Linked DNA regions of Homo sapiens. The protein of the gene in region 1 purifies or fractionates together with the protein of each later gene. This does not show direct contact. Each region holds a gene or a part of one and is shown on either strand. Other genes may lie near its edges.

Region 1 (3,500 bases):
GAAGAGTAACAAGTTCTGCTTCATTCTTAGCCCCTATGTCTCACCTCTTCCCCCAGGACATGGTTTTGGCAATTAGAGCTACTAAAAAAGGAAAGGGAATTTTCTGCCACTCACTTCTAAATTAAATGTTTCACTTCTAAGTTAAATTGTTTAAACAATCTCTCCTTGTGAAATTTTTTAAACCAGTTTTCTAAAAGCCTATTCATATAAGAAACTTATCTTTCTTAAAATTACCTTAAATGTGCAATATTTAGAACAACGGTAGATGGTTAAGCCTGAGAGTTTTTCTGCTAATCTTAGCCTTAGCAAGTGTTTAGGGCACAGAGAAGGAGCTCTAAGTCTGATAGAGATGGAAAGGCTGAGACCCAAGTTCCTAGCCCAGTGTGAACATGGTATATCTACACTTCCGGGACCCACCCCAAACCCCAAACAAAGAAAACCTGTTGGGGGGAGCTAGAGAGGCGGAAGAAGTTCTGAGATGGTGATTGAGTAGAGCTTTAAAATGTTCACCCGTTGGTTGGGGACTGGGTGGGGGAAGCATTGGGGGGTGGTGGGGGATAAAAGACTACAAATTGAGTTCAATGTATACTGCTCCGGTGATGGGTGCACCAAAATCTCACGATCGCCACTAAAGAACTTACTCTGTAACCAAATATCACCTGTTCCCCAAAAACCTATGGAAATAAACTGTTTTTTAAATGAGATAGTTTTAATCAGTAGCACAGAAGATTCACATCCTCTGTACAACAAAATTAGTTTCAGGAAAAAATCAGGTAAAACAACAATAGTAACAGTTTCTTTTTCCGAAAAGAAATGCAGACAGTGAAAATATTAAACTTTGTTCTAGTAAAAATTATTACATTACAAAAAAGGAAAATATGGTTTAATGCTTTTTAATTACAATGATGTATTTTTGTTTTTGTTTCGTATAAAAGGAAAAAACTTGTAACCTTGTACGTACATATTGGTTGGTCATAGTAATGAATAATAGCATTACAGTTTGATGATAATTATAAAAGGCTAACGTTAAAAAACATTCCAATTGTAAAGATTTTATTCAAATTCAGTACAATATTTCATTGATAAGTGAAAATTTGCACTTGCCAATCAAATACATTCACTTTGTAGTTTGAAAAAAAAAAAAAAAGCTTCATTCATTGGGAAGAAATGGTTATTCTTCCTTAGCTGAATCACCCAAATTAAAGACAAAGCAGGGAAATTGGAATTATGCACTGAGACATAGTCTTACGCTAAAGGGAATGTCCTAATCTAATAATATCTAATAATTTCAGATATTATTCCTTTGCTGTATATAAAAGCTGCACTTTTGACCAAAGAGTATTGTTCAGAAACCAATGCATGTAATACTTACACTTTTGCTAGCTCCATTGATATTTGTTCCAAAGAGCATCCCTTTGTCTCAGGTATAAACATAACAACAAAAAGCAGGGATGCTAGACTCATGATTGTATATATAAAGCACACCCATGGCAGGCCAATAAGATCTATAAAGGACAAAAGAAATTGATTAGAAATGTGTTTTGTGTAGCTTTGATCCCATTTGTGAACAGCCACTTAGGGCATACATAGCACCATATGTATTTTCAAACATGCCAGCAGTATCCAGGAAAATAGAAATCACAAATTTAAAATGTAGCCAGCTCTGAAGGTGTTACTTTTACAGACTACCTTAGTTTTCTCTGTTGAAGAAAATAGCAGTCTTGTAACTATCACAATTTACACCCAATGTCATCTTCTTGGTGGGCATGTCTTTCTGTTTCAAAATGGCAATGTGTCTTTATTAATATAAAAAAGCACATGCAAAAAAGGAACCTCAAATAACATGGAAACATATGATGTAGAAGGTAAAATCTCTCTTCTCCCTCTCCACAGTTCCCCTCTTGGGAATCGCCATGGTAGCAGTTTAGTTTCTGTTCGGTGGACAATTTTTTCCCCCTCTTGCTATCATTCCCAATGGTGGACATTTTTAATGACATTTGTACAGATGGATTTTTCTTGGAATGAGCTCACCCTTCTTTGCTCTGATGTGAATAAATCATTTCATGCTGGCAATATTTCATCATTTTTAATAGCTTGCAGTGTATTTGTAATGTTTCTTCCTGGGTTCAGAGAAAAAAGTGATCATGGATCCAGTAAAAGCCATCAACTTGCCAAGATGCATCACAAGAAGCAGGATCCTCAAGATTCTGATGACTCTCATCTGCAAACCTAGTTTTTCCTCTGACCGCTTCCAGCCAAAGATACAGTCCCTTTGTAGTCATGGACCAAGTCAAGGCACATTCAGTGGTCAGCAGTGGCCCCCACAGTGCACTTGAGGCTGCCATTTGCATTGTGGCGGCCCCTGACTCAGCAGCAGAATGTCTAGTGTGGCAAGGAGTAGTCAACTACGAACAACAAGATTTTACAAATAGCCTTTAACAGCTGCAGCCACAAACCACAGTTGGTCAGGCAGGAAAACTGACTGAGCACTTGTGTACTGAGGCAGTGTTTGTAAATGCAGCATGAAAGAATCGAAGCATAGTAACTACTTGTCGGTGAGTTGTGCTGAGGTTGGGAGAAGCAGGAAGGAGGAACCGCACTGCAGTTCTTTTGGCAATTTTAATTAAACTCCTGTCTCTCTCTGCTTTTCTAGCTGGCACAGGGTATGGCCCAACTGATTGCTTAATAAAGTCCTTGTAGAATTGGGTGTCCTTCCTTCTCTGGAGCTTAAAACCAGAATATAGAAATTGTCAAAACCCTAAAGGCTGTCTCATCAAATTGTCCCCAGTTTTGTTTGAGCACTTTGAGTAACAGGGAGCTCACCATTTCACGAAGCCTCTTACTGCCCTGTGAAATAGTTGCGTCTGCTAAAAAGTTATTCCTTGCTTAGATCCTAAATCTGCCTTTCAGAGGCTGTGCTTTGTCCTGTGGAAGGACACACAGTGAATCAGCTCTCCCCACCCCTTCTCCGTGACAGCCATTCAAATATTTGAATGCACCTCAGCCCTCCTCTGAGAATCCCCTTGTCCAAGTCAAACATCCTGAGCTCTTCAACCATTCTTCCCACAGCATAGGTTACTGCCCTCGCCATTCAGGTTGCCCTCCTTCAGCGAACACACTGCAATTTTTAAATGGCCCTCTCGAGATGTTTTACTCAGAGCTGAATGCAATGCTACAATTGTGTCATGATCACTGCAGAGTACATTTGTCTATCTGGAACAGTCTGCTTTTATTGATACAGCTGAAATTGCATAAAAAATGTTGGTGTTTAAGGGCTTACTGCCAAGTAGAACCTCACGTCTTTTAGATCCCTGTGTCCTACACTTGGAAAATTTATTTTTGAAAATAAGTAGGAAATGTCAAGCATTCCAATTAAATGTCATCTAAAGGTTTTAGAGCATTCTAGGCTTTTTGTTTTTAAGTGGATCTGTTTTCCTACATTTGTTCTAAAAGCCCATACGGAACTTCTAAAGCTTCACTAGCTCCTCCAGTGTATTAGC
Region 2 (2,478 bases), about 12 Mb from region 1:
ACTTGAGTAAGCAGTAGGTCATTATACTTTATTGGGTAATTTCCATGAGGCATTTGCTGGAGTCCTTATAACTGGTTTTTGTGTAAGCTGTCTTGGTTTTTTAACAATGTGCTGTATCAAATTGATAAGCTTCATAAAGTCTGTATCATAATCTCAACATATGATAGAAAAGCCAGTGCATTGTGGTTTATAATCTCTGAATTTTCTTTCTAAATCTACTAGAATTATACTAACCTTAGAAAGTTCATCTATATTTCACCTCTTTCCTGATTGTAGAGGTAATTATCTCTCAGCTATCACATGTTGTTGAAAATTAAATGATTTAACTTTTCCAGGTACTTCTATAAAATCAGAACTATTAACACTTCAAAGGTCTTATTAATAAGTGCAAGTTTTCTTCAATTATTTTTGTTATACTGATGCCTTTTCCAGCAATTGTTTCTCAATTTGCAGGGGTATAGAGAGTTAAAAATAACTTTTGTTTGCTCTGAAAAACATCTTTTTAATATATTCTAACATTTTAATTTGGCTTTATATTACAGAAACAAATTGCAACCCAAGTCTACTAAGCATAATTGGCTACAATACAACAAGCACTGTCCCAAAGGAAGGGCAGTCAGTCCAGTGGTGGCATGCTCAAGGAATTATAGGACTAATTCTCTTTTTGTTGTGTGTATTTTATTCCAGGTAGGAAAAACTATGGAATTTTTTTCTTTAAACAAGAAGTCTAGCTGTTTATTTATGAATCATTTCTTTTAAAAATGTTCTTTTTTTTCTCTCCTCCTAAACTCTCTTTCATACAGCATCCGTACTTCAAACAATAGTCAGGTTAATAAACTGACTCTAACAAGTGATGAATCTACATTAATAGAAGATGGTGGAGCTAGAAGTGATGGATCACTGGAGGATGGGGACGATGTTCACCGAGCTGTAGATAATGAAAGGGATGGTGTCACTTACAGTTATTCCTTCTTTCACTTCATGCTTTTCCTGGCTTCACTTTATATCATGATGACCCTTACCAACTGGTACAGGTATTTATATTTCATGAAAACTCTGGATGTGTGAATTCTGATGGCATTTTATGATTCTCTTGTGAAACCATGATGTGATATGAAGTACTTTTTATCCTCTGATATATTTCAAAATGTACAGCTAAATGAATAGTGAGATCAGCATGAGAAATGCAGTCTTTACTTCCTTGCTTTAACAGTAACACAAACATTGAAATAGTTCCAAATCTTGGAGAGATTAAAATAAAAATTTTCATGAAACTAATACTTTTTACAAAAATCCATGTTGATAGTGGATCTAACATTTTTTTTTTCAATTCTGTAAAGATAGTGAAGTAAAGGATACATCCTTTTTTCTCTTTTGTTTGAACTGTCATTAAAAGCTCTGAAAATTTTTAAATTTAAGTATGAATTCATTAATGTAGATAGATTCTTAGAATTCTTACAAGCCACAATTTTTACAAGCTTAGAATTCTTTCTACAAGCAACAATTTCTACAAATTCTACAAGCTTAGAATTCTTACAAGCTACTTTTTTTTTTAATCACTTCAAACTTAATCCATAAATCTTTTTCTGTTAAAAGGAAGATAGTGATTTATAGTGTTTCATTTTTGAAAGTTCTGGTTTTGTCCAAATGATTACTGAAAGATTTGGTCAAAGATTCAAATTGAACTATGTGGTTTGGGAAGTTCTGTTTTTAATAACTTTTTAATGCATAATATTAATAAACAAATTGTAAGGCGGCTCTCAGTATCAGCAAAAGATGGAGGAAAAAGATTATTCTTTGTTGTATGTCTTTGAGTGCAGCCTTTACTGATTTTTATTATTGAAAAGTATATATATTTTTTAATTCTTACACTGTAGCGTATTAAGCTATAAGAATCCAGCTGGTTCTTTTTTTTTTTTTTTTTGAAATGGAGTCTTGCTCTGTCACCCAGGCTGGAGTGCAGTGGCTTGATCTCAGCTCACTGCAAGCTGTCTCCCAGGTTCACGCCATTCTCCTGCCTCAGCCTCCCGAGTACCAGCTGGTTCTTAACTCAGATCCTTGGCTGTCACATAATAGTAGATATTAAGGCTTTATACCAGAAGGATTTTGGTATATTTCATTAACTCAAAAATCACTTAAACTTGAGATATATTTCCTTCCCAGTCTCTTAATTCTTTCTTTTTTTAAGGAGATATCTCTGAGTCATACCAGTCTCTTAATTCTGAGAAGGGAGGGGCGGGGGAGGGGGTTGGGGGAGTGGAAATCAGGTGAGGAGTTCCATATACATCTTGAACAATCTTATGTAATAGTGACATCTCATTTATCCAGAGGTCACATTCAGTTCCTCTTCTGTCTAATAACATGGCAGACATGCATAAAGTGCTTCAGAGATTATGCAAAATAACTATTTCAGAGGCCTGTATACTTTACTCCATTAAAGGAAATAACAGATTTTTACCTTCACACTAGCAGTGTGGA
Region 3 (3,500 bases), on another chromosome or scaffold:
TTGCAACGCTCTGCTTCCCAAGGAAAGGGTAAGAGAGGTTGAGGGTAGCCCCCTGCCTAACTGCTTTGGCCAGAAGTGGAAAAAGTAATGCCCAGGCTAAATACACTAAGCTCATCCTGGGGCAATGGACATAGCACTTCCGTTGCCATTCCATCAGTGAGAGCTAGTGACATAGCCTGCCTAGGTGCAAGGCATGCTGGAAAATGGAGTCCCTGGCTAGGCAGTGGTTCCTGGTGGCAATGTGACAGCACAGAGGGGAAGTACAGCTTTTGGAAGGCAGTTAGCCATCACTACCACACTCGTCATCCATACAGAACACACCATCACCTGCCCTTGCCTCTTGACAGCAATAAAAAGACATCCCTGACCCTTGCCTTCTCAGAGTGCCCAGTCCAGTGGGGGGACCTGGCACCACACAGCGATGACCTAGAGTGGTTCGTACCAACCACAATGAGGAGCACAGGCCAGATGGGTCAGGACCGGGATGGGGGAGGCACAGGCAGAGGGGTGGGGGCTGGAGTTGGGGGAGGCACAGGAAGTTATGGGATCCCAGGGAAAGTGCCTGACTCACTGTGGGGTGAGCAGGGATTAAGGGAGGCTTCTTAAAGCAAGTGCCATTAAAGCTGAGGCCACTGAGAGGCTGAGGTGGGAGGATGGCTTGAGCCCAGGAGGTCGAGGCTGCAGCGAACCAAGATCATGCCACTGCACTCCAACCTGGGTGACAGGGCGAGACTCTGTCTCACCAAAGAAAAAAAAAAAAAGCTGAGACCAGAGGCTGAGCATGGTGGCTCATGCCTGTAATTCCAGCACTTTGGGATGCTGAGGCAGGAGGATCCCTTGAGGCCAGGAATTTAAAACCAGCCTGGGCTCTATTTAAAAAAAAAAAAAAGGCTGAGATGGGACAGGGGAAAAGGAGACAACCATCCAGAGAGCAGAGTGTTCCCAGCAGAGGGCAGGGGGTGTACAAAGACCTGTAGTGAAGGTTTGGACCTGCAGACTTGAGTGTTGGTGGATACATCATTACCTTTATCAGGGGTTGCCAACTGTTTTCCAAAGTGGTCTATCCCCATTTTGTCCCCAGAGGGGTCTTTCTAAAGCACAAATCTGGTCAAGATATCCCTCCTACAGCTTCACAGCCCCCTCAGAATCAAGTCTGAACCCTTTGCTGAGCATCCTGTGGCCCCACGGAGTCTCCAGCCCTAGTCCCTTGCCTCTTCTTTCTCCACAATGTGCATACACCCTGTGTCCCCTCCTAGGTTCATACCCCAGGGATATGTTTACCCAACTCCAAGTGATAGGAGTCCTGACATCAATTTATTGGTTTCCAACAGGACTTTTTTTTTTTTTTGAGACAGAGTTTTGCTCTTGTTGCCCAGGCTGGAGTGCAATGGCACGATCTCAGCTCACTGAAGCCTCTGCCTCTGGGGTTCGAGAAATTCTCCCACCTCAGCCTCCCAAGTAGCTGGGATTACAGGTGCCCGCCACCACACCTGGCTAATTTTTTGTATCTTTAGTAGAGATGAGGTTTCACCATTTTGGCCAGGCTAGTCTTGAACTCCTGACCTCATGATCCACCAGCACTTTTTTTTTTTTTATGGAATAGATGATGTCAGTATGTCACAGATGGGAGGGATCCATATTATTTTGGGACACTTTTCTTTTTTTTCCCCGAGATGAAGTCTCGCTCTTGTCACCCAGGCTGGAGTGCAATGGTGTGATCTCGGCTCACTGCACCCTCCGCCTCCCAGGTTCAAGCAATTCTCCTGCCTCAGCCTCCCAAGTAGCTGGGATTACAGGTGCCTGCCACCACGCCCAGCTAATTTTTGTATTTTTAGTAGAGATGGGGTTTCACCATGTTGGCCAGGCTGGTCTCGAACTCCTGACCTCAGGTGATCCGCCTGCCTTGGCCTCCCGAAGTGCTGGGATTACAGCCATGAGCCATTGCGCCTGGCCTTGGGACACTTTTGTTTGACGTTTTTGTGTGCATTTGCATGAACGCCCAGTAGAAACTCTCTCTCTCTCTCTCTCTCTCTCTATATATATATATATATATATATATATATAATTTTATTTATTTGTTTGTTTAGAGATAGAGTTTTGCTCTTGTTGAGAATGGAGGCTGGAGTGCAGTGGCACAATCTCGACTCACTGCAACCTCCACCTCCTGGGTTCAAGTGATTCTCCTGCCTCAGCCTCCCAACTAGCTGGGACTACAGGCGTGCGCCACCACACCCAGCTAATTTTGTATTTTTAGTATAGGTGGGGTTTCACCATGTTGGCCAGTCTGATCTTGAACTCCTGACCTCAGGTGATCCGCCCCCCTCAGCCTCCCAAAATGCTGGGATTACAGGTGTGAGCCATCACGCCCAGCCACCAGTAGAAACAATTTCTTACTGTGGGTTGTGGTCAGTTCAAACTCTACTGCCCTAGAAACATTCTTACAGGTGTTCATTGAGCACAAAAATTAGAAACAGGCCAGGTGAGATGACTCACTAATGTAATCTCTGCACTTTGGGAGGCTGAGGTGGGAGGATCACTGGAGCCCAGTAGTTCGAGACCAGTCTGGGCAACGTAGTGAAACCCTATCTCTACAAAAAATGTTTCAAACTTAGCCAGGTGTGGTGGGGTGCACCTGTGGTCCCAGCTACCCAGGAGGCTGAGGCGGGAGGATCACTTGAGCGTGGGAGTTTGAGGCTGTAGTAAGCCATGGTCGTGCCACTGCACTCCAGCCTGGGCAACAGATCAAGACCCTGTCTCAAAAAAAAAAAAAAATGTCAGAACAGAGTTTATAACTAATAAACATATTTAAAAAGAAGGAAAAAAAATCAGAAACAACCACAGTATTCCTCAGCCAGATAAATGCACTGTGATAGATTCACGCAACGAAGTCCTTACACAGCAGTGTGAAATGAGTGACTGAGCTGGAGCGACACATGGCAACAGGGATAAATCGCAAAACCATGCTGGGCAAAAAGCACAAGTTGCAGGAGAACGACAGTAAATACCACTTCTGTGAAGTTTGAAAATATGCACACCATTACTCTAGATTGTTTACAGCTGTACACATACATAGAAAATATAGAAATGCATAAATGAGAATTTCAGGAAATAATTTAATAATGATTGTAGGAAAGAGGTGACCCTGGGGACCTGGGGGAGGTGTGATCAGGGCGGGATACACAGGAGGCTCCACGTGGATGGGGAGTATTTTTTTTTTTTTTTGAGACGGAGTCTCACTCTGTTGCCCAGGCTGGAGTACAATAGCACAATCTCGGCTCACTGCAACCTCCACCTCCCAGGTTCAAGCCATTCTCCTGCCTCAGCCTCCCAAGTAGCTGGGATTACAGGCACGCACCACCGCACCTGGCTAATTTTTGTATTTTTAGTAGAGACGGGATTTCACCATGATGGCCAGGCTGGTCTCAAACTCCTGACCTCATGATCCACCCACCTTGGCCTCCCAAAGTGCTAGGGTTAGAGGTGTGAGCCACCACGTGTGG
Region 4 (3,500 bases), about 100 Mb from region 1:
TTTGAACAAGGTGGATCTGGCCCCGCCAGCTCTTGTGGTTGCCTGGAAGCATTATTTCCATCAACACTATCCCCAGCTCCACGTCGTCCTTTTCACCTCTTTTCCTCGGGACCCCCGCACCCCACAGGACCCTAGTAGTGGTGAGTGGGCAATGAGAGAGGGCAACTTGGGAGAGGTGAGTTGGCAGGGGACAAAGGGGAGAACAGAGAGGCTTATTGACAAGGGGGCACCTGGTCTTGGGCCTAAGGGTGGTGGGAGAGATGAGAGGCCTAAGCCCGTGTGCCCATCCTTTTGTGCCCTCTGATCTCAGTCTTGAAGAAGAGTCGGAGGCGGGGGAGAGGATGGACTCGGGCCCTGGGGCCAGAGCAGTTGCTGAGAGCCTGTGAAGCCATCACTGTGGGGAAAGGTATGTGGCCCTTAGAGGAGGGCTGTAGGAGGACATGGGGGAGACCAAAGATGCAGAATCATTTTGCTCACCTTTCCTGAAGCCAACCCCTCTATGGTGGATATGTGCAAGAGGCCAGGGGAAGGGACAGAATAAGGAGCAGACTGACTTGGTGGGACGAGAGGCAGCAGGTAGTCAGGAGCCTCAGTGGCTTGCTGCCTTTAGCCTTCCCAGTACTTTTCAGAAGCTCAGAGAAACGTGCGTGATTCCAGGGAGGGTAGGGTCAAATGACTTTTGGGAGATTCTCTGACCTGCTCTTATTTAGGTTGGCACTGTACAACTCCAGAGGGTGCCAGTTACATAATCTGTGCAGGGCACAGTATGTGCCATCATGCACAGCAGCCCTGGGGAGAACCTCTTTAATCTTCTCCTTCTTTGAGCAGTGGACTTGAGCAGCTGGCGGGAGAAGATTGCTCGGGATGTGGCTGGGGCCACCTGGGGTAATGGCTCTGGGGAGGAGGAGGAAGAGGAGGATGGCCCAGCAGTCCTGGTGGAGCAGCAGACTGATTCAGCAATGGAGCCAACTGGCCCAACCCAAGAGCGCTACAAGGATGGGGTGGTGACCATCGGCTGTGTGGGTAAGGAAGTGGCAGCTTGTGCGTGGTGGCCTCCAAGGAGGTACAGAGTTTTCATATTCGGAGAAGAGAGAGGGCGATCAGGTCTCATTAGGCCCCAGGGTGTCTGAGGGGTGATCTCTGCCAGTGGCGGTGGGCAAGGCAGAAGAGGCGTCTGCTGCAGTGGAAGGATCATGACAGCCTGAGTTAAATTCCACCTCTTCTCAGCTGTGAGGTCTTGAGTAAGTGATTTTGCTACTCTGAGTCTTAGTTACTTTGATTTTAAAAATAAGGACATTGATACCTGAGTAAAAGAATGGATGACGGCCATGTGTGAGGGCTCATGCCTATATAGTCCCAGCGCTTTGGGAGGCTGAGGTGGGAGGATTGCTTGAGACCAGGAGCTCAAGACTAGTCTGGGCAACATAGTGAAACCCCATCTTTACAAAAGATAAAGAAAACTAGCCAAGTGTGGTGGTATGTGCCTGTAGTCTCTGCTACTTCAGAGGCTGAGGCAGGAGGATCACTTGAGCCCAAGAGTTCAAGGCTGCAGTGAGCTATGATTGTGCCACTGCACTCCAGCCTGGCTGATAGAGACCCTGTCTTTAAAAAAAAAGAATGGATGTGAGGAATGATGGGAATAGTGTTAAGAGAGTGTAAGAATGCCTGACAAATAGTGATAACAATAATAACAATTATTATTGTTAAAACTCAGTATTTATATGGTGCTTACTATGTAACAGGCACTGTTTTAAGTGGTTTATATAAACCATTTGAATTGTAGTAATTAGTCTGTAGTACAGTGATTATCAAATCATAGTAGGAGCTCAGCAAGAATTAGTATTCTTCTAGGTTTTAACCCTTTAAGTTTGTTGCCAAGGAGAATCTCCTCTTAAGGGCTTTGTCTCAGCTCACAGTGGAGGAAAAAGGAATGTATGATTAGGACCCAGGGCCCGTCTTCATTTAGGGTGGGAGAGGTAAGAAGAGACCTTGGACAAGTTATGGTATCTGAGGTGATATTGGAACCAAAAAGGGCCCAACCCAGAATAAATTTGGGAGTGTGGAGTAGGTAGTTGGGTTCCTTGGAAGTGCCCTGACTTATCTCTGTGTCCTTTTTGTCTTTGGAAGAACCTGCCTTACTGCTGAGTGATTGCTCCTCTTTCCAGTCATTTCACCCGGCTGTCCCTTCCCTGACTTCTGATCCTAGTCTCCCTGTCACAAGGAGCCTCTGTTCCCTCTCTTAGCAGCCTCTGCTCTAGCTGATCTCTATTCCAGGTGGTGTGAGAGGGAGAGTGTTTGCTGTGGCACAGGCACCCCTGAGTTTGGATTTCCCTCCAGCTCTCATTCATTTACCCATTCAACAAATATGTACTGAACACTTAACCAGGTGCCAGATATTCTAGGGATGGGACATACTGCTGTGGAAATGGCAAAAAGGTCTGTAGATTCATGGAGCTTATTTTCTTGTGAGTAAATAGATTTTGTGATCCGAAATCATGTAGGGGCAGTGAAGGCAATAAAGCAATGAAAGGGGATAGAGAGTGACTGAGAGGAGAGGTGCTCAGGGAAAACCTCCCTGAGGAGAGAACTGGATGATGAGATGAAGTGAGCCATTCAGAACTGTGGGGAAAGGGTCTTGAGGAGGGAACGGGCTTGGAGATTCTAGGACCAGCAAGAGTGCCCAGGGGATTGGAGTATGGGAGCCAGGATAAAGTACTGGGGATGAGGTCAGCAAGATCACCAGGGCCCACATCATGTAGAGCCCTGAGGCTGTGACAGCCATTTTGGATTTTATTCCAAGTCTCATGAGAAGCCAAGGGTAGGTTTTGAACAGGGGAATGATAGGATCTGATTTTGTTTCTTATAAGTTTACCTCCTGAGTAGAGAATAAATGATGGGGGGTGGGCAAGAAAGGGAGCAGAGAGAGCAGTTGAGGCTATTTCAGTAATCTAGGAGAGAAATAAGAGTTGCTTAGAGTAGGATGCTGGAGCTGGAGGTGGTGAGACAGGGCCGGAAGCATGATATATTTTGAAGGTAGAGAAAATGAGATCGCTGATGGCTTGCAGTTGGCACGTGAAGGAAAGTGAGGATAAAGAAGGACTTCCAGGTTTTTGTCTTGAGCAACTGGAAATACTGAGATGGGAAGACTGGGGGAGAAGCAGATTTGAAGGCTTTGGGGAGGAGAGGGGAATCAGAAATGAAATTTCAGATTCTTTTTAAATATCCCTAGTGGAGATGTTGAATAGGCAGTGGGTAAGTAGTCAGCAGCTTAGGGGAGAGAAGAGGACGGAAATTTGAATTTGGGAAAGATTTAAATTTGGGGAACCATTGATGGATATAAGTGGTATTTAAAGCCACAGGATTAGGCTGGGCACAGTGGCTCATGCCTATAATCCCAGCCCTTTGGGAGGCTGAGGCAGGTGGATCACTTGAGGCCAGGAGTTTGAGACCAGCCTGGCCAACATGGTGAAACCCTGTCTCTACCAAAAAATACAGAAAAT
Region 5 (3,500 bases), on another chromosome or scaffold:
TGAGCAATGAAGATGAGCGATGAATGCATTAGTAAAACTGGTTACTTGCCTACTGATGTCCACACATGCGACTACTCATGATTTACTGCAACGGTTATCAAATATGTTGCTTTCGCATAATTCATTAGTGATTAATTGCCATGCCAGACACTTCGTTTAGTCTAACAGGGAGGATTCTAGTGGGCGGATTATAGTGGGACGAGTTGGTGATGGGGGTGGTCTCCGGCTAGAAAGAGAAAAAGAGAAAGGTAAAGAAACAAGTAGAATATCTAGCAGAACATTGTTCCAAGGACACTGAGAAAGAGCCATTACACACATGCTCATGCACATACAGGCCAGCAGAAGTGGTTATGATCTGTAATGATTTTAACATTGTCACCTTTCATTTATCTAGTAGTTTTAATGAAAATTACGTCTTTTTTCATATGCAAATCTTTCTCAAAACTGAAGTCATTCCTTCCAATACTAATAAGAAATATGAAACTATTTGAAAGCCATCTGAAACGTACTGCACATATCTTAGCCAATAGAATATAATAATTACATAGAATGAACTCAGGAACTAATAAGGTATACTGTTTCAGACAATGATGGCTTTTGAATTTTTATTTCTCACATATAATTTTCCTTTTTCTTTCAGGATATTATTATCACTTCTCATTGCCTTTTTGACTTTCTCCAATTTGTTCTATATTATGCTTGTAATTTACAGAGCACTAAAAATCAGAAAAGCAAGTCTTTAGAGTTCTCTGTAGCAAGTGTAAATAGGCTCAGTGTTGAGTGCCTGTTTAAATTGCAGGAGCTCTAGTTCCTATTTTGGGTCTTAAAGACTTTAGTATTGGTATTAGTAGTATTACTCACTTTCTAGTTGGTAATGATGTTTCTGGTAGCTGAGTTTACTAAGCAAACGTACTTTAGATAATGAAATATTACTGTATTTGAGAGTCTCAACATTACCAAGTAATATTATTTATTACTTATTTATTCCTCAAGCTTCTACATTTATTTCCTAAATATATTAATAAGTTTTTTTAGTGTATTTGTGTACTTGACTTCATATATGGTATCTTGGGTAGTCATTTTTTTACCCCCCCAAATTTGACAAAGTCTACAAATTGAAATGTTTCTTTTTGATAAAACTCTGCAACTGATTTTTTCAGAAAGACTCCTTCTGGAATTATAGTCATAAATTTTTCTTCTGTATTAGAAACTCTATATTGATCAAATTGAATGTCCTTTCTCAGGTATGAAGAAGTGAAGTTAGAAAAATTTAAGAAAACTATTATGAAAAATAGTTTTGAAAAATAGTTTTGAAAAAAATAGTTGTTGAAAAATCATGGAACTATAAAATTAAATTACACGATCAAGGAAAAATCAAAGCAGGAGAGATATTGTTGATTAATGGTGAAAATATTAACTATTTAGGCACAAACTCATAGATATTAGTAGAATTCCTTTTACCTCATGCACTTGAAAAATGTGTAAGAGGCTTCAAAGGAAATCTTTCTTTGGGGAGGTACAAAGCACTGGAATTACAGGTGTGAGCCATGGTACCCAGCCTTATTTTCATTTAAAATGGCCATATATGTTTAACTTATGTCCTGAATCTTGAATCTGCATAATTTTCTTCTTTGATAGGAAGTTTCTGAAGGGCGCAGGTCACACCCACTTAACTTGTTTCATACAGTGTTTAGCATGGTGTTACATGCAATTACATTCTCAATGTCATTTTGGTCATCTTCTGAGACTACTAACTAATCATTTAAGACTTACTTCAGTGAAGCCTTCCCTGACCTGCCTTCCCCTCTCCTGATACAGTTGTTTGTATAGCATCTCAACAAATCTCTATTATTAGTCATCACACTGAACTCTAATTAGGCTTATATGTTATCTTCACTGATGAGAAATGAGCTGTCTCTTAATCATCTTCATGTAACTGTGGTATCTAGCTCACTGCTTGTCATTCAGTCACTGAATGTTTGATAACTGAATGAATGAAAGTTCCTCCTAGAATCAAGAAATAACTAATGAATGCTTGTGATATTCATTGGTCTTATAAATACAAGGATATTTGTGAGTAAATCATGGCCATGGCAAAAAAAAAAAAGTAGCTAAAGTGACATGTAGGATTGAGATCCTTGGTGACTCTAAAGTATCTAACTGCTCAGTTCTTTAGTAGATATTTGGAATAAATACCAAATAATAAGCCCCCTGCCCTCAGGGAGTTTGTCAAATAATCATGTAACCTATGGAAATGTATTCTTAGCAATTAACCAGTTGGCTGGTGGGAGGAGAGAACTGGCCAGAATTTGAGCTTTAAGGAGGGAAATTCTACCAGAAGTTTTGATAATGGAATTAATTAGGTGATTTCATTAAATAAAAAGTTGATTTTAGACTACAAATTCAGTGAGAAGTAGGATACAGCATGGCATGATGGATTGGAAATCGTTTCATGAATATGTGATAGCTTGGATCAAGGCTTGTAGCCAAGAGAGAAAGGAATGAAACTGACTTCTCTTGATCCTTTTGTTCTTGGCTTAACTGTTATTCCTCAGTCCTTCTGGACCATCCCATAGTTTTCCTGACTTCCTCTGCCTTCCCCTATGACTTCATGTTTGTGTCTCTCGTAGCACGTAACCCTACTTGTGATTATGTATTTATTTACTAGATTATTACCAGTGTCCCCCAAATAGATTCAAAATTCCTTGAGAAAAGAAACCACATATTTTGCATTTATTATGTGTATTCAGCATTTGGTACAATGTGATTAGAAAGCAGTGGTTAAGTATTTGTTGAATAATGGACAAATGAAGAAATGACTGAAAAGTGCCTAAACAAGATATTTAGCCAGGCTAGAGTTTAGGCTAGATCAAGGTGAGTAGGTCTAGCGAGGCCAAGGATGCTACACTTTTAAGGCATTTATCAGAAGCTTATATTTGAGATACTATGTTTACATAGAAAGAGTCCTGGATCAGAAGTTAGAAAATGTGGATTCTAGCTCCAGTTGCCAAATTGTACAATCAGACTAGATGATCTATGTCAAGACTTCCAGTTATATATTGCATAGATTATTTATTGAGCATCTAATATGTGGACTGCTTCATGCTACATGACTTTAAAGAGCTCAGCATCTATTCAGAATGGAAGATGAGTGGAATAAAACAAATATGAAAGTAGCTTTATTATAGTACTTCATTTTAAGTGGAAAAGTGGGGCAAAATTTTGTAATTCGGAGTCTGAGAATACACTCTGGGAAGTCTGAAAATACAATAATGTGGTCAAAGTGATGGCAAACATGATTGTAACTGCTGCATATAAAACTTGGAAGTAGGAATGTAGGTCTATAATGAGTGAAATTGGAACTTAAATGATGGCGATTGAAGGGAAAAATTCAATGGTGTGGATAGAGAATAGAAAGACTTAAGTACTCTTATGGCACAGTAAATTCTCATTAATATCTGCTTTAATCCTTGGACCATGTGGCTGGGACAAGAGCACAA
Region 6 (3,500 bases), on another chromosome or scaffold:
TAAGGTATCTGTTTATTGTACACTAACCTGACTAATAATACACTGAAGTCTACCAAATTGTGATTTTTTTTTCAAGAAAAATGTTTAGGTATCTTGGTGACTAGAAAAGATTAATGCAATTTCTAGTTCCCCAAAATGTATGCTGCTATAATCAAAGAATAACTGACATAGTAAGAAAATTTTATTAAACAATTTATCATAACATTAAAACTTCTTTTTTTTTAAACAGAGTCTTACTCTGTCACTTGGGCTTGAGTGCAGTGGTGTGATCTCAGCTCACTGCAACCTCCGCCTCCCAGGTTCAAGTGATTCTCCTGCCTCAGCTTCCCGAATACCTGGGATTACAGGCACCCGCCACTGTGCCCGGCTAATTTTCGTATTTTTAGTAGAGACGGGGTTTCACCATCTTGGCCAGGCTGGTCTCGAATACCTGACCTCGTGATCTACCTGCCTTAGCCTCCCAAAGTGCTGTGATTACAGGCATGAGCCACTGCGCCCAGACATTTTTTTTTTGTATTTTTAGTAGAGATGGGGTTTCACCATGTTGGCCAGACTGGTCTCGAACTCCTGACCTTGTGATTCGCCTGCCTCAGCCTCCCAAAGTGCTAGGACTACAGGCGTGAGCCACCGCACCCAGCCTAAAAAATTTTTTTAAACTTGATATAATCTCTCCCAATTTTAGGAACACAGAATATAAAGTAAAATCTCAGTTTTACAGAATGAATACTTGAAAAATAATTCCAATAAGGTATCTTTAAGTTGTACTTCCCAAGAAGTAATCACATAAAATAATGCAAATCTTGGCTTAAGATTTTAATAGAAAGCAATCCAGCCTCATACTGTTAATGACAGATCAAGTGAATAATTAGCTATGTCAGTATTTTCTCTCATTTCCTTGAAAGGTTGCAGCTTTGAATAAACATTTTTTATATCACACTCCAATAAGAAAGCTTACAAAAACCAAACATTTGTCACTGGATTTAATTTTTTTTTTTTTTTAACTTTTTAAGAGATGAGGTCTGACGCTGTCACTCAGGCTGGAGTGCAGTGGCACGATCATAGCTCACTGCAGCCTCAAACTCCTGGCCTCAAGTGATTCCCCTGACTTTGTCTCCTAAGTAACTAGGACTATAGGCATGCACCATGGACTTCCAGCTAAGAATTTAAGTTAAAAAAAACATACATATATACGTGTATTAATGTAGACAAACAAACCTGAAACTGTCTTTAAAAACTTTGTTTTGCTATTATGTGAAATTTAAAATTGCTGTCTAAAATATTTATTCACAGGTATATAATAGTAAATATAACCTCTATATAGCAGTTATGTATAATAAAAACAGCTTTTATTCTATTCTTACACAAGATATTTTTAGCTAACCACCACGAGTATGAAAAATAAATTCCAACCACAATTTACCTTGTCCTAAGAGCAAGCCAAGCAGCTTCAATGTCTGCATAGAGGTTCTTCTCTGTGGGTTTCCCGGAACTGGCACCATATCCAGAATAATCATATGAGAATATATTACAATTAATCCGTGATCCTAGTCCTATGTAAAAGCTGCTCATTTGACCAAGATCAACAGCATTTCCATGTGAGAAGAGTAAAGTGTATTTCGCATTGGGTGAACAACGTACAAACATACAAGCAATTCTGTTGCCTTTACTGGTTCTAGTCATGAAACACTCAATAGCATCTTTTTCTCTAGAAGAATACTGCCAGTCTGCTCGTTCAGACAGATGTAAAGTCCAACGGCTTCCGCTTTCATCACACATCAGTGTGTAAGTTGGATCAGGTGGCAAAAACGCTAATTTTGAAGCAATCTTCCCTGGACAAGGTGGACAGCAGAAGAGGCAACATAGCTCACTAAATGAAAGATTATTCATGCTCTGAAAAAGAAAAGGAGATAGCAAATATTTTAATAACTGAATGTAGACTCATACAATAAAAAGTTAAAACACAGACATGGGTAAATTTTATTGGTGGTTAATGACTATTACTATTTTAGGTATGATTCCAAACAGATTTTTGGCTTCTTTTTTTTTTTTGAGACGGAGTTTCACTCTTGTTGCCCAGGCTGGAGTGCAATGGCGCAATCTCAGCTCATCATAACCTACGCCTCCCGGGTTCAAGTGGTTCTCCTGCCTCAGCCTCCTAAGTAGCTGGGATTACAGGCATGCGCCACCACACCCGGTTAATTTTGTATTTTTAGTAGAGATGGGGTTTCTCCATGTTGATCAGATTGGTCTCGAACTCCTGACCTCAGGTGATTCACCCACCTCGGCCTCCCAAAGTGCTGGGATTACAAGGAGTAAGCCACCACGCCCGGCCTTTGGCTTCTTTCTAGAAGTACTTTAAATCCTGGGGTGAGGCAAATATTCCTGACCAGCAGACAGACTCAAATCCTATATGACAGGTTTCAAATAGCAGTGATTATTATCTCATTTAACATAAATGTCAAAAATGATAAAGGTAATATTTGCCATTTCTTTACAAATAACCTGAAGGTATGAAATATCTTTAGTGTAGTCTGTAATTTCTATGTAACTCAGCAAAAGTTCTTAGAACCTCATGGAGAAGCTAGGAATTTAGCATAAAGTGAATACATACTAATAGCATTTATGAAGCTATTTGTCAGGCATTGTGCCAAGTGCTCTATGTGTGTTACTTGGTTTAATTCTCAGAACAACTGTGTAAGTTGTTGTGAGAAAGGAAACTTGCACAAGATGAGGCAGTGGTGGAGCCAGGATTTGACTCCAGGCTGTCACTACACTATGTTACTGGGCTACACTGCCTCACAGATTCAGAACACGCTCAGAAGACTATCACTTTGGTCACAGTGCCAGTGGCCCAAATAACCTATAGAACATTAAAGTGTATGTATGTATGCATGCATGTATGTATGTATGTAATTACTGCCCAAACTAAAAAGGCTATAATATAAAGTTTATTGTGGAAAAAAGGTAAAATCTACTAAAGGTAAACTTTTCTAAATGTTTGGAAGAGAAAGAGTACAAGGTTTAAAGTTAGGAAGCTGGGGTAAAATCCTAACTCTACCACTTACCGTTTGCCAGCTGTATGTCCTTGGGCAAACTATCTCTTTGACTCTCATTTTCTTCATAAGTAAACAAGGCCAATACCTACACTGAAGGACCTGGTTGTGAATATCAAATGTTGGTGTAGTGAAGGCCCATCATACAACATACGGTGAGTGATGGCCATATCATTGTCACACTTTAACTTAGGGACAAAAATAAAGTAATACTTGTTAGTTCTATCAGTATTTCCTTCTATCTTGTCCTTTTTCAAATTCCTGTCTCTTTTTAGCAAAATTAGGCCATTGCTTAGTTCCAGAGAAAAGGCATTTAAAACCAACACCTTACAGGTTTGGTGGCATCCAATTTTCTCCAAAAAGAAAAAAAAAAAATCTAAATATAAGAATAGGGGGAAAAAAGTACCCTATTACACCAAAAATGGGAAGAAAACAACTCAACAGAGT
Region 7 (3,500 bases), on another chromosome or scaffold:
GGGTCTAGGGATGTGAAAGGCCATGATGGTAAAGAGAAAAGCTCACACTACTCTTTTTTTAAACCTTTCCCCATCAGTAAGCTTATCTAGATCTTCTAGATCTCACCATCCTCTCCTGGCTGGATAACTTCTGCTCCCTACAACCAGTCCTGTCTGCCTCCAGCCCATGCCCCTCTGCTATGATCTTTTTTTTTTTTTTCAAGACAGAGTCTTGCTCTGTTGTCCAGGCTGGAGTACGGTAGCACGATCTTGGCTCGCTGTGACCTCCTCCTCCCAGGTTCAAGTGATTCTCTGCCTCAGCCTCCCAAGTAGCTGGGACCACAGGCACACACCACCACATCCAGCTAATTTTTAGTAGAGACAAGGTTTCAACATGTTGATCTAGAACTCCTGGCCTCAAATGATCCACCCGCCTCAGCCTCCCAAAGTGTTGGGATTACAGGCGTGAGCCACTGCGCCCGGCCATGCTACGATCTTTAAAATGAAAACCTAATCTTGGCACATCTCGGCCTAAAAATCACCATGACCCTTATTGCCCCCCAAGTCCAGGAGCTTTATAAGAACTAGAAAACTGCCCCTCCCGCAAGTCTCATGTCTCTTTTCCCTTCTTGTAGGTCAGGCTTCAGCCATACAATTCCTGAAATTTCTCTCCCATCCTTTCTTACTGGAGATACCTGCACTTGCTTTTCCTCTGCCTAGAGCTCTCCCCTTTACACTCCACCCCCACCTGTGCCTGGCCTGTTCCCCCTCACAGGTTCCCCCTTACCTAGAAGGCCTTTCCTGACTCCCTCTGAGGAGAAGGAGGAGCAGGGCTTCAAGCTGTTTTGTGCCTCTGATTTCCAGTTAACTGTGAGTCTCCCGCACTCAAGCATGACTGCTGTGAGGGGAGTTACTTCAGCTGTCATGTAACTCCATAACTCCGAGCAGAGCACCTGCACACAGTAGGTTCAAAATGTGTAGAATAGGCCAGGCACGGTGGCTCATACCTGGAATCCCAGCACTTTGGGAGGCTGAGGCAGGTGGATCATGAGGTCAGGAGTTCAAGACCAGCCTGGCCAATAAAGCGAAACCCCATCTCTACTAAAAATACAAAAATTAGCTGGGCGTGGTGGCTCGTGCCTGTAGTCCCAGCTGCTCAGGAGGCTGAGGCAGGAGAATCTCTTGAACCCGGGAGGCAGAGGTTGCAGTGAGCCGAGATTGTGCCGCTTCACTCCAGCCGGGGTGACGGAGCGAGACTCTGTCTCAAAAAAAAAAAAAACACAATGTCTAGAATAGTGGAATCGATGTTAGCATTTTATAGATGTGGCAGCTGAAGGAAAGAGAAGGTAATTGTCCTATTCAAGATGACAAGATAAGTTATTAGAATTCTTATTTTTCTCTGTTTCCTCCTTCAGCTGTGGAGAGGGAGTGTGTGTCATGGCGCCCCAGGCCAGGGAGGGGAGGTAGGGTAATGGGCCTGGGACATCAGAAGACATGGCACACTGGCAGAGTAGAGCCAGCCTGGGTGCTGGAGTCAGACTGCAGACTTGGTTCCCTGCTCGTCCCAGTTCTGCTGCCTGCGGACAAGTTATTTCAGCTCTCTTAGCTCCACATGATTTTTTTCATCTGTCAGGTGAGAATAATGGCACCTCCCTCCCAGGGAGGTGAGGATCAAGGGAAGTAGCCCATTAGCTCCAGGAGGTGGGGCTGTGTCTGCCCTGGTGGCTGCTGTGAGCAAGTCCAGTGCCGGGCACAGGAGCAGCTCTCTTTCCTCACCTCTCTGCACCGTGGTCCCTTAAACCCCCGGCCCCTTCCTGTCCAGGCAGTGTGTGGCCATCTAACGTGCCATCCAGTTCTTCAGGCTGTCATTCTGTCAGAGCCTGGAGTCGAGGCTGCGAGGGCCCTGGCTGGCTGGGTGTTGCCTGAGAGTTGCCCAGGGGAATAAGACTTTTAAGACTAGATTTTGTGCTCAGTGCCTCATTCCTCTGCGACTTTGCCCATGGACATGTCTTAGAAACTGAAGTTGCTTCAGAACAGCCCTGAGAAGGGCAGGGGCAAGGGCCTGACAGAAGAGGAAGTGCTCCTTCCAGAGGGCTCAGCCAGAGCCCCATGGGTGTGCTGGTCAGCAGGAGGGCAGTCGGAGCCTCAAGCCATCCATGCCTCTCTCTCCTTACAGGTACTCTGATGGCTACCGCAGCTCCTCCCTCCTCCGGGCCGTGGCCCACCTGCGGTCCCAGCTCTGGGCCCACCTCCCTCGAGCCCCCCTAGCTCCCAGATGGAGCCCCTCTGCCTGGTGCTGGGTTGGGGGAGCCCTGCTAGGCCCCATGGTACTGAGTAAGCATCCCCACCTCTGCCTTGTGGCCCTGTGTGAGGCAGAAGAGGCCCCTCCTGCCAGCTCCACACCCCATGTCGTGGGGTCTCGCTTTAACTGGAAGCTCTTCTGGCAGTTTCTGCACCCCCACCTGCTGGTCCTGGGGGTAGCCGTCGTGGTGAGGCTTTCCCCACTTCTCCATCCTGGGGACAGGGCAGGACCCAGAGCTGCAAAGGGATGGCATTCCTGCCTCGCTGCCTCTCAGGGGAGAGCTCAGGGGAGCAGCAAGGGCTAGCCAGGGGTCCAGGGGTGCCAGGAGCATCAACACTGGGTGGCTGGGTGGGCAGGGTTCCGTGGGGACTGGAAGCCAGGGTTTGAACCTCTGAGAGGCACTGATGTGTCCACATGACCAGCCACAACCTGGACAAGCGCAGTGCTCAGTAGTGGGAGAGGAAGGGCCAAGATCTGGCTGGGGATGGGGAGGAGTGGCTCCCCCACTTAAAACATTTGTGCCCTCTGTCTCCCCATTCCAGCTGGCCTTGGGTGCGGCACTCGTGAATGTACAGATCCCCCTGCTCCTGGGCCAGCTGGTAGAGGTCGTGGCCAAGTACACAAGGGACCACGTAGGGAGTTTCATGACTGAGTCCCAGAATCTCAGCACCCACCTGCTTATCCTCTATGGTGTCCAGGTACAGCCGGGAGTGGGGCTGGGGACCGCCGAGGAGCCACCCGAGGCATCCCTGAGTGCACTGGGCTCTTTCGCAGGGACTGCTGACCTTCGGGTACCTGGTGCTGCTGTCCCACGTTGGCGAGCGCATGGCTGTGGACATGCGGAGGGCCCTCTTCAGCTCCCTGCTCCGGTACTGCCAGCCGCAGGGTGCAGAGTTGGGGTGACTGATGGCCTGAGGGGTCTGGGGGTAGGACCTTATCCTGAAGTAATGTCTCCCTCTTCTGCCCTCCTTATTGGTTCTTGTCCCATGCCAGACAAGACATCACCTTCTTTGACGCCAATAAGACAGGGCAGCTGGTGAGCCGCTTGACAACTGACGTGCAGGAGTTTAAGTCATCCTTCAAGCTTGTCATCTCCCAGGTCAGTGGCCCAGTGGCCCCCACCACGTCCACACACACACTTTCCCATGTGGATTCACCAGGCCAGCCCTGCCCGCCCCAGCCCTGATGTTGGGCTGACAGGCGCATGCTGACTCGAGAA

What was found.
Region 2: the proteins of SLC2A12 (region 1) and SERINC1 purify together in Homo sapiens (affinity purification with mass spectrometry; 2 studies listed by BioGRID and IntAct, with this or other methods). This does not show direct contact.
Region 3: the proteins of SLC2A12 (region 1) and COQ8B purify together in Homo sapiens (affinity purification with mass spectrometry; 2 studies listed by BioGRID and IntAct, with this or other methods). This does not show direct contact.
Region 4: the proteins of SLC2A12 (region 1) and GNL1 purify together in Homo sapiens (affinity purification with mass spectrometry; 2 studies listed by BioGRID and IntAct, with this or other methods). This does not show direct contact.
Region 5: the proteins of SLC2A12 (region 1) and DNM3 purify together in Homo sapiens (affinity purification with mass spectrometry; 2 studies listed by BioGRID and IntAct, with this or other methods). This does not show direct contact.
Region 6: the proteins of SLC2A12 (region 1) and ABHD17B purify together in Homo sapiens (affinity purification with mass spectrometry; 2 studies listed by BioGRID and IntAct, with this or other methods). This does not show direct contact.
Region 7: the proteins of SLC2A12 (region 1) and ABCB8 purify together in Homo sapiens (affinity purification with mass spectrometry; 2 studies listed by BioGRID and IntAct, with this or other methods). This does not show direct contact.

The regions. Positions count from the first base shown.
Region 1 is NC_000006.12:134,000,625-134,004,124, forward strand, and holds part of SLC2A12 (solute carrier family 2, facilitated glucose transporter member 12), read right to left. Parts: intron 1,506-3,500; coding exon 1,373-1,505; intron 1-1,372. UniProt on the Homo sapiens protein: Insulin-independent facilitative glucose transporter.
Region 2 is NC_000006.12:122,445,330-122,447,807, reverse strand, and holds part of SERINC1 (serine incorporator 1), read left to right. Parts: intron 1-542; coding exon 543-687; intron 688-803; coding exon 804-1,034; intron 1,035-2,478.
Region 3 is NC_000019.10:40,696,387-40,699,886, reverse strand, and holds part of COQ8B (atypical kinase COQ8B, mitochondrial), read left to right. Parts: intron 1-3,500.
Region 4 is NC_000006.12:30,549,990-30,553,489, reverse strand, and holds part of GNL1 (guanine nucleotide-binding protein-like 1), read left to right. Parts: coding exon 1-140; intron 141-310; coding exon 311-406; intron 407-828; coding exon 829-1,023; intron 1,024-3,500. UniProt on the Homo sapiens protein: Possible regulatory or functional link with the histocompatibility cluster.
Region 5 is NC_000001.11:172,404,498-172,407,997, reverse strand, and holds part of DNM3 (dynamin-3), read right to left. Parts: exon of another isoform or gene 227-3,500; coding exon 157-226; 3' UTR 1-156. UniProt on the Homo sapiens protein: Microtubule-associated force-producing protein involved in producing microtubule bundles and able to bind and hydrolyze GTP. Most probably involved in vesicular trafficking processes, in particular endocytosis.
Region 6 is NC_000009.12:71,873,194-71,876,693, forward strand, and holds part of ABHD17B (alpha/beta hydrolase domain-containing protein 17B), read right to left. Parts: intron 1,891-3,500; 5' UTR 1,888-1,890; coding exon 1,421-1,887; intron 1-1,420. UniProt on the Homo sapiens protein: Hydrolyzes fatty acids from S-acylated cysteine residues in proteins. Has depalmitoylating activity towards DLG4/PSD95. Has depalmitoylating activity towards GAP43. Has depalmitoylating activity towards MAP6. Has depalmitoylating activity towards NRAS.
Region 7 is NC_000007.14:151,031,450-151,034,949, forward strand, and holds part of ABCB8 (mitochondrial potassium channel ATP-binding subunit), read left to right. Parts: intron 1-2,155; coding exon 2,156-2,468; intron 2,469-2,823; coding exon 2,824-2,979; intron 2,980-3,055; coding exon 3,056-3,150; intron 3,151-3,274; coding exon 3,275-3,380; intron 3,381-3,500. UniProt on the Homo sapiens protein: ATP-binding subunit of the mitochondrial ATP-gated potassium channel (mitoK(ATP)). Together with pore-forming subunit CCDC51/MITOK of the mitoK(ATP) channel, mediates ATP-dependent potassium currents across the mitochondrial inner membrane.